Homo sapiens: one gene and its partner. The protein of the gene in region 1 purifies or fractionates together with the protein of each later gene. This does not show direct contact. Each region holds a gene or a part of one and is shown in the gene's direction. Other genes may lie near its edges.

Region 1 (3,656 bases):
AATAATTTTTGAGGCAAATGGCATTGTATAATATGTCTGTACAAAAAACAAACAAAAAACCAAACAAGGGCAAATAGAACCCTTTGGATTGGTATTGTACTATCTGTTTCTGAAGACCCAGAAACAGAAAACAAACTTTTCCCCAGACTTACTGTTTCCTTGAGAATCCTTTTTCTTTGTTCTTCATACTTTAACTTCCATAAGGAGCTGGCTCCTCTGCCTATAAATAAGAGCTTAGAGAAATACTTCAAAAAGCTACCTACAGTTAGCTAAATATTACCAAGTCTGCCTGGTACATGTTTCATTATATTTCCTTGCCTCAGTTTGTTATCTAGATTTAATTTACACTCCATGTGATATAGCTGTTAAATTAGAAATGAGATTCTTTCTTCTGCTTTAGCAAAATTCAGTGACAATTTTTAGCTCCATTTCCAATTTTTACATATGTGCGATCACTTGGTTCATACTGATAACTGAACTGACTCAGTCTCATATTTATCAGGTCAGATAACTGTGCTTAACCGTGCATAGTGGGCCAGTCATCATTTATGTGTCATCTTCTTTATTTGCTTTGTGAACACTCACCACAGCACCTATTTTTCTCTGGTATTTTTTATACTAATTTTCTTGTTAGAATAGTTTCCTTAATGTACAGAAATTGAACTAGATAATTACAGTTGTTCTAAATATATTTTTCTGGACATTTAAAGAAATCATTCTAACACCAGAGATTAATGTTACCTGTTTTAGTATTTTATACAAATTGATTCCTACAGTGTAAGCTGTATTGTACTGTATACTTCAATTCATATGATAAAGAAATACAATGGGCTGTAACAATACACTAAAAACAGGAATGAGTGAGGGGTTAAGTTCACTTGGAGTATTACACCTATCCTTTGCATCTACTGTTTTCTGTGAAATTTTACAGCAGTGATGCCCTTCCATATAGGTTCTTCCATATAAAATGTGATCATATTTTGGGAAAAAATACAAGAACATTTTAAGGTAATTTTTGATTTATAGATCTATATGATGATAAGTAGATGCCAAGAGGGGTAGGAATTAGAAATGGAAAGAAGTAAACCATAATGTTAAATATTTTCAAAGGATACTTGTTTTTCATACAGGAAAAAAAATTAGGATTTTTAAACACCTCTCCTTCCCTCTTGTTTCAACTTAAAAATGCTATACAGATAAATTCCTCTTGTTTTGTGGAAATACAGAATAAATGTGAAAGAAATACAAATCACTTTATCGTATGCCTATACTTCATGTAGAACAGCTATAGCTGAGTTCTCCCACACAGTCTACTTTGATGGCAGAAATGGAGACACACAGGGTACCCTTATAGTCACGGCAACTTTTGTGTTGTCTTTTTACACAAAGTTGGAAGTATTAGCAAGTGAATTGCTGAAATGTCATTACTACCAGGACTGCTTTGATGATAAGGTTGAATTGGAAAAGTTAATTTTAATAAGCCATGTACAATAATACCTGTTTACTTCTAATGATCTGAAAAGCAGGAAGGTTTTTACGGAGCCATGAACAAAAATCTGAACATGCTTTTCTTAAACTTTTGGAGATTTGAAGAAGGGTTGCAAAATGTCCAAAATACAGTTTTCACAAGAAAACACATCAAACCTGATTGTTGCCAATCATTGTGATATAACTTCTATTCATTTTTGGAAACATACTCCTGCTTTGTCTATCATCACTTGTATGTTTCCTTGCAGTGTGGCCTCAGGAAACAAGTGTATTTTTCTGTCAGACAGAACACAAGTTGCATAGATAAATATTAAAACTAGTACTCATGAAAGCATAACCCATTAGTGAACTTAGGTACAGACACAAATACTTAAGTCAGCAGGAAGTTTACTCTTTCCTTAGGTTACTACTCCATGAGAGTAAGATTGACCATATCATAATGTTTGGAGCCCTTTCTGATGCATTTTCTACAGTGGGTAAAATGATGTAGGTAAAAATATATTGGCTGGGCGTGGTGGCTCACACCTATAATCCCAGCACTTTGGGAGGCCGAGGTGGGCAGATCACGAGGTCAGGAGTTCGAGACCATGGCCAACATGGTGAAATCCCGTCTCTACTAAAAATACAAAAAAAAAAAATTAGCTGCGTGTGGTGACAGGCACCTGTAATCCCAGCTACTTGGGAGGCTGAGGCAGGGAAACCGGAATGTAGAGGTTGCAGTGAGCCAAGCTTGCACCACTGCACTCCAGCCTGGGTGAAAAAGCGAAACTCCATCTCAGGAAAAAAAAAACAAAAAAAATATATATATATATATTTAAATAAATATTTTAATATGTAAATATTTTAAATATCTATATTTAATATATATTAATATATATTAAATATATATAAATAATTTGGTCAGTGCAGTCAGACTGTCTTCCTATTTTAGCTGTAGTTTTGTATAACAAATTTTAAACATTCAAAACATTCTGAAAGAGAAAGGTTCTGGTTATTTGATTTCATAAAAAGAGTTCTTAATCATAGAATTATAGAAGTCCATATAAACGTAGGAATTAAAATTCTTATAGCTGGCTGACAGCAAAATATTAATGTCTTATTCACATATAACACCTTAAGTAAAGCAATCAGTATGCCTAAACACAGATTTATTTTTTTACTTTAGATCATTTTTTTTGGGGGGGGAAAAGAAAAGTATCTAGTAAAAAACTGCCAATACTTAATTTTGGTGTAAGAGTTTGTTTCAGTTTTACATGTTGCTTATAGCTAGAAAAATATTATAATCCAGTCATTTTTAACTTCATAAATATGGACTTATCATACTTTTCATGCTTTTTTTTTTTTTTTTTTTTTTTACTTTGCCCATCCTTCTGCCTTTCATTAAAGCCATTTCTCTTTTTTCCCCCGAACTTGGCAAACTCTTGTGTTTTCAAGACTTAGTTCAAGCTTGATTTGCTTGGGGACTTTTGTTCTATCTGGATTGGGCTAAGTGCCCCTCTTCACTAGCATTTTGGACATAGCATCTTGGACATACCATTTTTCATGTTGTTTTGTAACCATTTGTCTTTCTCTCAAAACTGTAAGCTCCCTAATACCGGTAATAGGTATTTTATTTATATATCTCTAGTGCCTAGCCCAATGTTTGAAACCTCACAGGTGCTCAGTGTTTGACTAGTTGTATAAGTAAGAGAAGGTAAAGGAATCATTGTGTAAACACTGGAAGTTAATAATGCATTTTGATTCTACTACTAAAGAAAATCCAAAAACCAGAAAGGATATATATTCGTTGTCAGATAACAATCTTTATTTCTTGATTTAGGTGTTCACTGTTGGCAGAATTTGTGCCAGCCGTACCAGAATTTATCATAAACTGAAACATTTTAAATTCAAACTATACCAGGAATGTTGCACCATTGCAATGACAGAAGAAGTTGAAGATGAACAAGTTAAAGAAACAGTGGAAAGAATTTTCAGGCGGTCAAAAGAAAATGGCTGGATTAAGGAGGTAAGGTGAATATATGAGAATCTTATCATGTAGATTCTGAAGGCTAATTATGATCAGCAAAAGGAAACAAATGATTAAAAGATAGTGAAATTTAAGAGAATCTCTTTCTTCTGTCGTTTGTATTTTCTCTTCTTCCGCTCATTCCTTTCATGCTTATCATTGT
Region 2 (3,656 bases), on another chromosome or scaffold:
AGGTTGCAGTGAGCTGAGATAGTGTCACTGCACTCCAGCCTGGGCAACAGAGTGAGACCCTGTCTCAAACAAACAAACAAACAACAACAACAACAACAAAAACCCTGAGGGACTTCATGGGGCTTCATGATCTACTGCTACAGAACAGAGCACAACTCCTGTGCATACATGTGGAAGGCCATCACCCAGAGGAAACAAAGGAGACCAAATGGGGTGCCCCGTTAGGAGCCATAGACGCAGAGGTGTCGTGAGTGACACTGAGCCTGCCCTTCAGGGCTGGGGGCTCCCTGAACCTTTGAACTGTCCTTCATCACCACCTACTGCTCTTGTTATTTATTTATTTGGCAAATGTTTGCCGACCATCTACTACATGCCAGGCTCTTTGACAAGTGCGGGAGACACAGCCATGATAGGGACAACCCAGAGCTGTTCTGGAGCTACACAATTAACTCCTTTTCTGAGAGCCTCAGGAGCTTTGCATTCTTCATCTTTAATCCTCACACCCGCCACCAGGCAGGCATGAGTATTCCTGAGGAGAAAACAAGGCACAGAGATGTTAAGTAGTTTGTCCAAGGCCACACAGCTGGCTCTCCATCCTGTGCTCTTCCCTACTGGTACCACACTGTTCTGAAAATAAGCAGAACCCCGTTATAGAGCTAGACGTTTCCGAACTACCTGATGGCCGTAAGGCGTATTTAGGATGATCTGGAGAAGAACTAAGAAACCTCTCTGTCTTGGAGGCTGATCAGGGCAGCCTCTGGCTTCAGCTCATTGTCCCAACCAGAGGCCCTGAGTGGAGGTTCTAGGTGAGATATGGAAGGGATGAGTGTCAAGCCATTTTGGGGTGACATTTTACTGATGAATGCAGGGTGACATTCTCTCAATGCAGGCAGCAGTACTACTTACCCAGTGCCAGAGAACTCTGCACCTCGGGTGGTTTTCCTAGAAATGAAGTTGGGCTGCTATAGCTAAAACCATGGGTATTTATTGACCACCAAGTATGTCAAAGCATAAGGATAGGGCTCCCTCTTTGAATGCTGGACACAGCCAGTCACCACCCTGTGACTCTACACCAGGGGAGCTGGAGAGGTTCTTAGAAGAGAGGTTTCCCTTCCCTAGGAAGGCTTCACAGATGTGGGGCATCAGCAGGGCCAGTGGTGTGCCTTGAGGCATGCCTGAGACCTGGCCAGGGTACAGTGAAGGGGACAGTCTTGCTGGAGCAGACCCTGGATAGGGGCTGGGGAATGTTCATAGTGGAGCCGGGTTATTAGGTTAAAACATATGAAATTTCTGGTTTTATGGCTGAAAAAAGGTTGACTACAGACATTTCCTATGATTCAACCTAATACCTGCCCTTGGACATCAGGCTAAGCTGTTTAAACTTGAACCTGAAGTATGGAGAAGCCGCTGATGGTTTCTGAGCTAGAGAACAACACAGTGAACTGGGTTTTAGAACCACTTATCTAGTAAAAAGGGTATGAAATTTTAGATGGGGGAACTTGAGGAAGAAAGCCAAATATGGAAGTCCCTTGCTGCCTTTAAAGTGATCAAGATCAGGAAATTGGTGGCTATAAGAATGGGAAGAAAGGCTAGATGTGAACATTTTTGTGTAAGAGCCAGCTGGACTTGGGGATGGATAGATGGATGGATAAATGGATGGATGGATGCATGGATGGACAGATGGACGGACAGACGGACGGATGGATGGACAGATGGATGGACGGATGGACGGACGGACGGACGGATGGACGGACGGATGGATGGATGGATGGATGGATAGGATCATGGCCATTGTCTTCCATTTTCCTAATACCAGACACAAACAAGAGAGATGGCAAGGTAGGTGGGAAGCTTCCCCTCAGGGAATAGGGAGGAGTTTTTCCTCAGTGGAGAGATAACATACCTGCTAGGACATTAACTGTGACCAGGGGCTCACTATTCTCACATGGGGCAAATCCAGTGGGTGTAGCCTTCCCTCCTCTGGAGGAGAGGAGCTGTTCCCAGGGGTATTCTCCAAGTGGGCCTGGGCTGCCTTGTTCTGGCTCTCCAGAGGGCAGATGAGGCTGTGGCAGCTTAGTGTGCTGGGAGGAATTCTGAGCCCCCTCAGCAGGGCTCCCAGCCCACCCCGTAACCACCCCCACTGCCTATTCTTCACAGGATCTGCAGTGAGGACATCGAGTGCAGTGGGCTGACCATCCCCAAGGCTGTGCAGTACCTGAGCTCCCAGGATGAGAAGTACCAGGCCATTGGGGCCTATTACATCCAGCATACCTGCTTCCAGGATGAATCTGCCAAGCAACAGGTAGCTGGTTGCATACCTTCCTCCTTGGTGGGCCTGCGGAGGGCCTGGGTGTGTCAGCCTGACTCCGCTTTTAGAGATGGGTGAGGGCATCTGCAGTTGGCTTCTCTTGCCTTGCCCAGCTGCCAGGAGCCTTCGCATTGCCCAAGGTTAGAGCTGGGCATCTTAACTTTCTGCAGAGCAAAGCCCTCTGTTTAAGTGGACATTAGGCAGGTACAATTCCTCCATTGGTCATGGAAGAGACTTCAATGCCAGCCACGGGTTCAACAGAAACCCCTTTTCTCAAATCCCACTAAAGAACATGACTGCTCCTCACCTCTCAACTCCTGCCCTCCTACCTGCTTCCTCTCTCCCACTCCCCTTCTCTCTCCAGGCATCTTACGGTAGAAAACAGGCCTGTTGATGCCTCCAAAGCTTTGCTGGCAGGAAGGACACTACAGGGTTCTTCAGTTCAGCCCAAGGATGTAGTGTCAAAAATGAGTTTCCCAGAGTCCCGGATAAGTTTGTATGCATTTCTATGTCTGTGTTCTGCTTTAGGGTTTTGAAATGTATTTACATCCACTCTCTTATCAGGTCCTCACCATCATTCTCCAGAGGAAGAAAGCAGGACTCAGGAAAGAGGAGGGACCCTAGCTGAGGTTCTCCCAGCTAGGATATGGGAGCTAGGATATGGGAGCTAGGATCTGAATCCAGGTCTTTTGCCTCCGGGTCTGGGTCAGTTATCATGACCTCACACTGCTTATTTATTTTGGTTGACTTGAATATTTCTGAACTGATAGATTTTTTGGTCTGAAAAAAAAAATCACCTTTGAGTAGAGAATAACTAGATCAGCCTCATCTCCCTTGACCAGGCAGCGTGGCAACTCTTTCCTGGCAGGTCTATCAGCTGGGAGGCATCTGCAAGCTGGTGGACCTCCTCCGCAGCCCCAACCAGAACGTCCAGCAGGCCGCGGCAGGGGCCCTGCGCAACCTGGTGTTCAGGAGCACCACCAACAAGCTGGAGACCCGGAGGCAGAATGGGATCCGCGAGGCAGTCAGCCTCCTGAGGAGAACCGGGAACGCCGAGATCCAGAAGCAGCTGACTGGTAGGACAACACGGCCACCGAGAGCCAGCCTGAGGGCTGTGCAAGGCCACTGGCTATGGCCCCAGGCTGGGGTGCAAGCCTGTCTCTCCAGGCTGGGCCAAGACACAGCTGTGCAGATTTGGCCCAGGGCTAATATCCTGAGAGTTTAGTGACACTGGCCTTGGCCCAATTAGGGGTGTCCAGAGGGTGACCTTGGGTGGTGTGCACACACAAGGGGTCACCATCTTTTTGAGGTTAAAGAGCAAAAGGAGGAAGGCTGATGTCCAGGCAAG

What was found. The genes of interacting proteins can lie anywhere in the genome.
Region 2: the proteins of CCDC82 (region 1) and PKP1 purify together in Homo sapiens (affinity purification with mass spectrometry; 2 studies listed by BioGRID and IntAct, with this or other methods). This does not show direct contact.

Annotation. Positions count from the first base shown.
Region 1 is NC_000011.10:96,358,830-96,362,485, reverse strand, and holds part of CCDC82 (coiled-coil domain-containing protein 82), read left to right. Parts: intron 1-3,307; coding exon 3,308-3,493; intron 3,494-3,656.
Region 2 is NC_000001.11:201,314,396-201,318,051, forward strand, and holds part of PKP1 (plakophilin-1), read left to right. Parts: intron 1-2,157; coding exon 2,158-2,302; intron 2,303-3,176; coding exon 3,177-3,384; intron 3,385-3,656. UniProt on the Homo sapiens protein: A component of desmosome cell-cell junctions which are required for positive regulation of cellular adhesion.